Regions from separate parts of the Homo sapiens genome. Here region 2 is linked to region 1. The links come from fine-mapping of genetic effects on gene expression. Tissue or cell type: monocytes after LPS. Region 1 holds a variant in brackets; the other region holds the start of a gene. All regions are shown on one strand. Distances are between the middles of the regions.

The links. PIP is the estimated chance that this variant, and not a neighbour inherited with it, causes the effect.
Region 2: it holds the start of CDAN1, and the variant in region 1 is fine-mapped to the expression of CDAN1 in monocytes after LPS (Quach 2016, PIP 0.93).

What each region holds. Positions count from the first base shown.
Region 1 is chr15:43,638,186-43,643,185 of GRCh38, reverse strand. It overlaps CATSPER2 (cation channel sperm associated 2), which reads left to right. Exons shown (of 13, transcript NM_172095.4): 5 at 2,690-2,862; 6 at 3,388-3,543; 7 at 4,158-4,282. It also overlaps the pseudogene PPIP5K1P1-CATSPER2. Among named protein-coding and RNA genes, the nearest start is that of CATSPER2, 8.2 kb to the left of the region's middle. RefSeq lists enhancers at 3,981-4,510, 4,561-4,690. The variant T/C (reference allele first, on the strand shown) is at 2,683.
Region 2 is chr15:42,735,054-42,740,248 of GRCh38, reverse strand. CDAN1 (codanin 1) reads left to right here and starts at 3,121. Exons shown (of 28, transcript NM_138477.4): 1 at 3,121-3,236; 2 at 3,469-3,947; 3 at 4,171-4,374; 4 at 4,570-4,739; 5 at 4,875-4,988; 6 at 5,071-5,149. The coding sequence starts at 3,147. TTBK2 (tau tubulin kinase 2) reads left to right here. Exons shown (of 15, transcript NM_173500.4): 15 at 1-1,519. TTBK2-AS1 (TTBK2 antisense RNA 1) reads right to left here and starts at 1,131. Exons shown (of 3, transcript NR_186317.1): 1 at 1,014-1,131. RefSeq lists silencers at 2,935-3,184, 3,375-3,514, 3,605-3,894.

The sequences.
Region 1 (5,000 bases):
ATTTACCTGGTATTCTGTGAGGTGACCTACTGTTGTTTTTCTAGAATAGGGAGTAGCAATAGATGACTGTTCATGGTGAACTCTACCCTGTAAAACAGAATTATATATTTGCCTGACTTGCTTGATCAAATGGCTACTGTCTGTCACCCTGAGAAGAATATTGAAGCATAGATGTTCACTGCTACTTCACTTCACTGGCTAAGATTCCTGGGTAGACTTCACTGGGCTCCTGGTCTCTATTTCCATTAAGACTCCTTTGCCTTGCTATAGCAGCCTGAAAAATTCCAAGAATTTTAAAAAGTTATTTTTCATCTTCAGAGAGGACACATTACTTGATGTAGAGTGGAGGCAGTCACTTCTGCACATTCTGTGCTGCTGAGGCAATTTCTGCTATTCGTTCCTCTGAACTTCCTTGGGTTTGTTTAGCTTCTATAAAATTATTCATTTTTCCAGAGAGTAAAAGTGCTACTGCTTCTATAATTTGGACTTCCCTACTTAAACTATTTTAAACTACTCAAAACTATATTCTGCTTTACAAGAGCCTTATTTTACTTCATTGCTCTGTTTGGGTTCCTGTTTTGCAAGGGCAAAAACTGAATAAAAATTATAGCATTCTATTTTCCAGCCACAAATGTGGTCCTCAGCTCTTTCTAATTATATAATCCCATGCTCCTGAGAGCTAGAATTTATTGTTAAGTGAAAAAATTTTGTATTTTATTGAATTTAAGCTGTCATCAATGGTGAAATTCACTGTTTACCAATAAGAAATAAAAATCATGCTCAATTAAACTGGGACACATCGCTGGTTGTAAAATGCATCCTCACTTTGGGAGGCCGAGGTGGGCAGATCACGAGGTCTAGAGATGGAGACCATCCTGGCCAACATGGTGAAACCCTGTCTCTACCAAAAATACAAAAATTAGCTGGGCATGGTGGCGCATGTCTGTAGTCCCAGCTACTTGGGAGGCTGAGGCAGGAGAATCGCTTGAACCCAGGAGGCGGAGGTTGCAGTGAGCTGAGATTGCACCACTGCACTCCATCTTGGCAACAGAGCGAGACTGTGTCTCAAAGAAAAAAAAAAAAGCATCCTAATTTCATGTATGTTAAAATGTGAAAAATTGTCCGTCTTAGAGAAACTTACGTGAAAGAAAAACTTACAGAAGTACAGAGCCTAAATAAGCATAGGAGTGCTGGGTGCAGTGGCTCATGCCTATAACCCCAGCACTTTGGGAGACCAAGGCGGGCGGATCGCTTTAGCCCAGCAGTTTGAGGCCAACCTGGGCAGCATAGGGAGACCCCATCTCTACAAGTAATTTAAAGAAAAAATTAGCTGGGCATGGTGACATGTGCCTGTGGTCCCAGTTACCCAGAGGCTCTTGAGCCCGGAAGAGCCAGGCTTCCGTGAACCGTGATTATGCAACTGCACTCCTCCAGCCTGGGTGACAGAGTGAGATTCTCTCTCAAAACAAGCATAGAAATAAGTATAGCGTAACTCCATTGGTTTTTAGAAGGGGCCAACCTCTGTAAAATTCTAGGGATGATTGAAGTATTGTTCTGTTCTTTTTGTCTGGATTCAGTTCAGCATCAGGATGACTTTAAAGCCAGAGCACCACAATGTTGATTTCTATTTAGCTCTTAAGCCTATTATAATCTGAGTGTTTTTTTTTTTTCCAAGGGTATGGCATACATCCATTCATTGTATAAAAGAGATGAAGAAGGTTGAAAGAGAAAGGCAATGAATTAAGGAATAGCAATTAGTAAATAATAGGTTTCGGCCAGGTGTGGTGGCTCACGCCTATAATCCCAGCACTTTGGGAGGCTGAGGTGGGCGGATCACCTGAGGTCAGGAGTTTGAGACCAGCCTCAACATGGAGAAACCCCATCTCTACTGAAAATACAAAATTAGCCGGGTGTGGTGGTGCATGCCTGTAATCCCAGCTACTCGGAAGGCTGAGGCAGGAGAATTGCTTGAACCCCGGAGGTGGAGGTTGCAGTGAGACAAGATCGCACCATTGCACTCCAGCCTGGGCAACAAGAGCGAAACTCCATCTCAAAAAAAAAAACAAAAAACAAAAAACAAAACAAAACAAAAGTAAATAATAGGTTTCTAGAGAGGAAATTTGCATTCAGTTTGCTTTGCAGAGCAAAATTTTAGGCAGGGAAGAAAGGAAAAGTTTTAAAAGAAAGCTAACAGAACCAAGTGATTTATTGTTATAATTCGATATACCCTAATGATTGTGGCTTGTTTCTACATTCGTTATAAAGTAGTTCAGATATCATGGCCCTGTATTTTCATTCTGTTCTCAAGACCCATTGCTTTCTTGTGAACTTTGGGACTGAGATAACAGTACAGTAGATGGGGGTGGGGTTTGGAGGTAGGGGTAATTAAAGAGAGTACTCTCTTAGTAGCTGTGTGAGCCCCAGAGTGGATCGCAAGTGACTTGTAGCTGGGCAGACATAACTATATGAACAGATTGGTTGTGGCTGTGTTTTATGGTCAATTCTGTCCTTCCCTGTATTTCACAGGTTGAAGCAACAGTGTTAAGAAGAGAAACTCTTAACTCTTAACACAGTGTGAAGAAAAATGGAACAGTAGTGGGCAAAACTGTGGTTTATAAGTGTGTTCATTCTCCATCATTCGGTTTCCAGCTTCCTTAACTTTTATTCCTCCTTTGCTCTATC[T/C]TCACAGAATTGCTGGAATCCACAAATACCAAACTATGGCCATTGAAGCTGACCTTGGAGGTGGCAGCTTGGTTTATCTTGCTTATTTTCATCCTGGAGATCCTTCTTAAGTGGCTATCCAACTTTTCTGTTTTCTGGAAGAGTGCCTGGAATGTCTTTGACTTTGTTGTTACCATGTTGGTAAGGATAGAGATCCTGAGGGTTCGTTTAGTGGGATGAAGAATGTGCCTAGGTGAATCGAAAGAACAAGTTAACATGATAATAGGAAGAAACAAAAATTTACTTAACTTCTTTCTTTTGATTTTTTTTCCCTAAAACTAAACATCAATCATTGCAGGAGTTGTTGGTATTAGGAGCAAAGTAGACTAACTACAACATCAATGCCAACAAGAGCATCTGCCGGTTACTGAGCACTTACTAAGTGCCAAGCATTATTTTAAGTGTTTTCCTTACATTATCTCATTTATGCTCCACAACAACCCAATTAAATAACCATGAATTTTATCCCCCTTTTTATATCTGAACAAGTTTAAGTATAGTGTTTAAGCAACTTAATATAGAAAGGCTGAATAGTAAGCACTTCTCAGAGAATGCTATTCAAGGGATAACGCCCAGGGAACAATGAAGAGGATAAGATGAAGAAGCTGCAATTCTGCCTGGGTGCCTTGGGGTGTATTTTACTTATAACCTGTGTGTTTTCCACAGTCCCTGCTTCCCGAGGTTGTGGTATTGGTAGGGGTAACAGGCCAATCGGTGTGGCTTCAGCTTCTGAGGATCTGCCGGGTGCTGAGGTCTCTCAAACTCCTTGCACAATTCCGTCAAATTCAAATTATTATTTTGGTCCTGGTCAGGGCCCTCAAGGTGATTTGACTGTTGCAAGCTAAAGCAGGGGGCAAGGTAGATAAATGTGAGGGCTTAACATAGAATATGAAACAAATTGGCCGGGTGCGGTGGCTCACGCCTGTAATCCCAGCACTTTGGGAAGCCGAGGGGGATGGGTCATGAGGTCAGGAGTTCGAGACCAGCCTGACCAACATGGTGAAACCCTGTCTCTACTAAAAATACCAAAAAAAAAAAAAAAAAAAAAAAAAAATTGCCGGGCTTGGTGGTGTGTGCCTGTAATCCCAGCTACTCAGGAGGCTGAGGCAGAAGAATCACTTGAACCCGGGAGGCGGAAGTTGCAGTGAGCCGAGACTGCGCCACTGCACTCTAGCCTAGGCGACAGAGTGAAACTCCGTCTAAAAAAAAAAAAAATATATGAAAGAAATCTGGGTGGGTCAAAGAAGGCAATGAAACGTCCTGTGAAATGTTATTGGATGAGAAGGGGCTGGGGACAGGTGCCATGGTTCAAAGATGACTGGGTTCAGCAGTGCAAGAGAGGGTTTGGTGGGGGATTGCCAGGTGAGCTTGACTGGGCTGTTGGTGGAGATCAGCCTAGTTTGGCCCACATCTGACATGAGAGTTATGGCCTCTAGAGCATGACCTTCCTCTTGATGTTGCTGCTCATCTTCTTCTACATTTTTGCTGTGACTGGTGTCTACGTCTTCTCAGAGTACACCCGTTCACCTCGTCAGGACCTGGAGTACCATGTGTTCTTCTCGTAAGCAGAGCTGGGGACAGCTGGGTGAGGGGAGAAAATTTGGCTAAGAGACCAGGAAGCTTGTCCAAAGTATAGTAATATAAAAAGTGCAGTCTATTCCAAGAAACTGAAATAGAACACAATAGGGAGAGGGAAAGAGAAAGCAAAAGAATAGTGAATGGTATTAGCTCTGATCTTGAGGTTAGGGCAGCTAGTTCCATGTTTATTCTGGGTTTTGCAAATTCAAACCACACTGTCATCAGGCATCTTTAAATAGCAGTACACTCCAGTGGTTAAGCTTGGTTTCTGTGACTCAGTTACCTCTTTTGAAAAATGGGGGCAGGGCGCGGTGGCTCACCCCTGAAATCCCAGCACTTTGGGAGGCCAAGGCGGGTGGATCATGAGGTAAAGAGATCGAGACCATCCTAGCCAACATGGTGAAACCCTGTATCTACCAAAAATACAAAAATTAGCCAGCCGTGGTGGCAGGCGCCTGTAGTCCCAGCTACTCGGGAGTCTGAGGCAGGAGAATTGCTTGAATCTGGGAGGCAGAGATTGCAGTGAGCCGATATAGTGCCACTGTACTCCAGCCTGGCAACAGAGCAATACTCCATCTCAAAAAAAAAAAAAAAAAAAAAGAAAGAAAGAAAAAGAAAAGAAAAATGGGAATAGGCTGGGCACAGTGGCTCATGCCTATAATCCCAGCAGTTTCAGAAGCCAAGACAGGTGGATCACCTGA
Region 2 (5,195 bases), 900 kb after region 1:
CAATGTAACGGTTTTCTGCCTCCTCTTCAGCTGGAAGCGTTAGTGGTAGTATGGGCACAGAATATATGTACACTGGCGATGCTGACCATGCCTCCCAGGTACCCTGGCTCTGGGTTCCTTGACCTAGGGAACAAGATTGGATGAGGCAGATCTTTGAGCCCATGTGACTATAGAATTTGCTGATGATATAATTTTACAATAACAATGGATAGGAATTTTACCTCTCTTTTTATTAGTTTAATATTATTTAATATTATGTACATAAGTGTTCACTCGCCTAATTAAAAACATTGAGTAAACCAAGTTTTTATATAGACTACCCTTGCCATATGATGCTCTTTTTCTCTAATAATATGCAGTTTAAATCCTGAGGAATCAATGCCCAGCATTTCACCACATCTGAACTCTGTGTGGGCATTCTTCACTCGCCTACAAGGGGTAAACAAGGCTACCAGAACTTGAATTTGACTTATAGGGAGCTACCCAGGAAGGGGAAAGCCCTTGGGACTTTTTCCAAAACAATCTTCTATTTGAACTGTTCATCAGCCAAAGTAGTCCACTGAGGTGACAAAGCTTTCAGAAATACAAAGATGGGAAGATAAAGGTAACACTGGCCCACTTGGGGCTTTGACATTGGATTGGGTGGACTGAATAAACACAGCCTAGGTGGCCTGGGCTTGAGCCTCACTTACTTCTCCTTGATACATAGTTCCTGGTCTACCTTCTGACCCTTTTTCTAAAATAGCCAGTGTCTATTTCACTAGGCCATTTACTTACAAGTTCCCAGCTTTTAGGGAAAAAAGAGGGAGGGGGGAGCATCTAGTTTTGAATTAGATATACATCTTAGAAGTAATGAGCTATTGGCAGCTGTTAAATCAGATTCAGCCACAAACCAGAATTCTTTCTTGTTGAACAAGACCAATGAGTTAGATGACTTTAATAATTCCACTTTTCTCTCCCTCTCTTCTCCTCTTCCTGAAATCAGAGAGATGAGAAACTACTCTTTGAAATACCTCCAGAGGCGTTTTATTGTGTTCCTTTCCCCTCCAAGCAGCTCCCTTTATACAATTTTGCTCAGGCAACCAAGGACAGAGTATCGGCAGAAACATGGAGTGCTTTTGTATAGGCCACCTGTACATAAAAGTGTAATTATTTATTTAATTTTCCCATTTGTATCATATTAAAGCTTTGTACAGTGTTTTAAGTTCTGTTTTAAAATTATTTTGTATTTTATTTTTATAACCTAGTAATAAAATATTCATTCCGCATGCAAAATCTAGTTCTGTTTGTGTGATGGTCTGGATTTCAAAAGTGGAAAATATTTTTCTAATTTAATAAAGTTATTGAATACACCAGATGTTACAAGATCAACGGGGAGCAGATAGTGTTACTGTAAATGCAGTACCACATCTAGAAGTTCCCTAGAAAAAGCAGCCCAGGACTGAATAGAAGCTAGGTGTTAAGTGTCCCTGCAGTTAGGAGATGTTTTCCTGTAATAAAATTAAAATATTAAAAGCTCCTTTTTAGTCCATTATTCTGTCTGGCTGGAGGTACTTTTTCCTTCTCCATAGGAAATACCCCTTCTGCCACTAGAGAGATTCCTGCACCCCCACCCTCATCCTTCCGCCCGTAACCTTCCTTTGAACCAGAGCAACTCTCAGGAGGCATTCACAAGGGCACTGCCTCACCCCTCCTGGTTTGGTTTGACATGGAATGTTCGTGCCATCTGTTTTTCTCCGCTTGGATTCCCTTGCTTGATTTGTCACTGAGCAGCAACCTTCAAAATCCTCTCTCAGGTTTTTTTGTTTTGTTTTGTTTTTGAGATGGAGTCTCGCTCTGTCACCCAGGCTGGAGTGCAGTGGCGTGATCTTGGATCACTGCAACCTCCGCCTCCCAGGTTCAAGCGATTCTCCTGCCTCAGCCTCCCCAGTAGCTAGGACTACAGGCGCGTGCCACCACGCCCAGTTAATTTTTGTATTTTTATTAGAGACACGGTTTCACCATGTTGGCCAGGATGGTCTCCATCTCTCGACCTCGTGATCCGCCCACCTCTGCCTCCCACTGCATTCCAGCCCCGGGGGTGACAGAGCGAGACTCCATCTCAAAATAAAATTAAATAAAGGAGATTAAGAAATTACTCAGGCCGGGCGTGGTGGCCCACGCCTATAATCCCAGCACTTTGGATCTGCTGCCCTCTCCCGGCCAAAACATTAGCTGGGCTATAGCCCTAGGGAGGCTGAGTCGGGAGGATTGCTTGAGCCCAGGAGGCCAAGGCTGCAGTGAGCCGTGCTCACGCCACTGCACTCCAGCCTGGGCAACAGAGCAAGACCCTGTCTCAAAAAAAACAAAACAAAAACAAAAAACACCAAACCCAAAAATACAAACCTCAAGCTCCCAGAAGCTAATCATGATATGCTTACTGACATCTAAACTGCAAAGTAGTTGAAATATTAACCTCATGTAAACCCACTTAAGTAAATAAAGCTACATACAAGCAATTCTGTGTGCAGGGTGGCCCGAGGCACTTTAAGGGTTGTGGCTTGGGGATTATTAAGAACCTCCTAGAAATAATTCTTTCCTAAATGGTCAGTTGATGGTGAGCGCTGAAAAGCCGATGGGTACTGCTCGGCCAAGGGATTGAAAAATCGGCCTTTGAGAAGAACAAAGTCAAAATGAAAGATTAGATTATAATTTCTCTGGGGTGGTGCCAGTTGGATCTAGGAAACTTAAACTCGTGAAAGAATGTGCTTAGAGCAGAAGATAGAAGCTGGTGGCTGTCTCTGCTCCCCTCTACCTCTCTCCCGGGTCCTGGGTCTCCCTAGAGGGGCGTCCGACCCGCGGCAGCCCCACTCCCAGCTCGAATCCCTCCCTTCAGGTCGCTCCAGGGCGGGCAGCCAAGGTGGGCCTCCCCAGGCGCTGTGATCCACATTTCACCTCCTAACAACCGGCCTCTCGGCCGGGGTTGAGGACTCAGCGAGGCCTTGACTCCGTGGGTCTGGGCAACAGCCGGCTCCGCCCCGCCCCGCCAGCCGGGTCCCTCCCCATCCCGCGACCCAACGGTCGTTCCCCGCCGCCGGCCCCGCCCCTCCCTGGCCGCCCGCGGCGCGCCGGCGCCTGCGCAGTCGCCCCAGAGCGCCCCGACCGGGATGGCGGCCGTTTTGGAGTCGCTGCTGCGAGAAGAGGTGTCGGTCGCAGCCGTCGTGCGGTGGATCGCGCGCAGCACCCAGGGTTCGGAGGTAACAGCGGTGACACGCCCCCAGGTCTGACTCGAAGCCGGTTCCCGCAGTGGAGTCCAGCCCTCCAGTCCCCTTCCTCTAGGGCGCCTGGCTGCCAGCCGGGCCGAGTGCACTCCAACTGGGCGCCGCTGCCCGGGCCGCCCACCCGAGGCGCGCCCTACGGCCCCGGCTGCTCACGGCCCGCGGGCCGGCGGCTGACCCTCTCGCCCCTCCACCTGTGCTTCTGCCCTAGGATAACGCTGGGGAGGCGGCCGCGCTGAGCTCACTCCGGGCCCTGCGGAAAGAATTCGTACCGTTCCTGTTGAACTTCCTGAGGGAGCAGAGCAGCCGCGTCCTCCCGCAGGGGCCCCCGACCCCCGCCAAGACCCCGGGCGCCTCGGCAGCCTTGCCAGGGAGGCCGGGAGGCCCGCCGCGGGGTAGCCGCGGGGCGCGCAGCCAGCTTTTCCCTCCGACCGAGGCCCAGAGCACCGCTGCCGAGGCCCCTCTGGCCCGCCGCGGGGGCAGGAGGCGGGGCCCGGGGCCGGCCCGCGAGCGTGGAGGCCGCGGCCTGGAGGAGGGGGTCAGCGGGGAGAGCCTGCCCGGAGCCGGGGGCCGGAGGCTTAGGGGCTCTGGCAGCCCCAGCCGCCCCAGCCTCACGCTGTCTGATCCGCCAAACCTCAGCAACCTGGAGGAGTTCCCTCCCGTAGGCTCGGTTCCCCCCGGCCCTACAGGGTGAGACTCAGCTCTCATGCAGGAGATGGGTACCACGAAGGCTCTGGGGAGTCAGTCATTCGAGCTCGGCGCTCCGCAGTGGAGCGCCAGGATGGGTAGAAGGCTGGGGGTGATGGTGAGGGTTTTTGTGGGGTTTTTTGGCAAGAGGTCTAGCTGTTGCGGTGGTGGAGGGGAGATGTTTGAAGATAGGAATTTGAGAAAAACCTGTGGCTACTCTCAGCAGGACGAAGCCTTCTCGCAGGATCAACCCAACTCCGGTGAGCGAAGAGCGGTCACTCTCCAAGCCCAAGACCTGCTTCACCTCACCCCCAATCAGCTGTGTCCCCAGTTCCCAACCCTCAGCCCTGGACACTAGCCCTTGGGGCCTTGGCCTTCCCCCAGGGTGCAGAAGTCTGCAAGAGGAGCGAGAGATGCTCAGGAAGGAGCGGTATGGCCTGGCCGCTCCTGGGGATATCGGTTTCCTCGCTGTGGGGGATCTTCAGGGGTTTTCCCTGAAATTGATTTCCCTCTTGGGGACTCTGGGTTTGTCTCCTGGGCTGTTGGTATCTTCTCTGGAGTGACCTGAGTGTGGCCGTAGCAGGGAAGCCAAGCTGACTGCTCATGAAATTTCTTTATTCCATAGCTCTAAGCAGCTGCAGCAGTCACCTACCCCCACCTGTCCCACCCCAGAATTGGGGTCGCCCCTCCCCAGCCGGACAGGAAGCCTCACAGATGAACCTGCAGACCCTGCCAGAGTGTCTTCCCGCCAGCGCCTGGAGCTTGTAGCCCTTGTTTACTCCTCGTGCATTGCTGGTGAGTGAGAGCGGAGGGAGCGGGAGTGGAGACACTTGTAGAACTTATGGGTAAGAGAATTGGTAAGGCACTTGGAACTGAGCCTTGGCTCCAAATGGTGCCCATACCATGGGCTTTCTTTTTGTATCTATCTAGAGAACCTGGTACCAAACCTCTTCTTGGAGCTTTTCTTCGTCTTTCAGCTCCTCACTGCCCGGAGGATGGTGACTGCCAAGGACAGCGACCCTGAACTAAGTCCAGCTGTCCTAGGTCAGTGAGCAAGCCTCCTTTTGAGACATGGGGTCTAGAAACGGGACCGTTCTTAACTGACAGCTTGGTACTGTCCTTCTAGATTCCCTGGAAAGTCCACTGTTCCAAAGCATCCACGATTGTGTCTTCTTTGCAGTGCAGGTTTTGGAGTGTCACTTTCAGTGAGTTTCCCTGGCTGAGGCATTTGGGCCTCATTCTCATCATCTG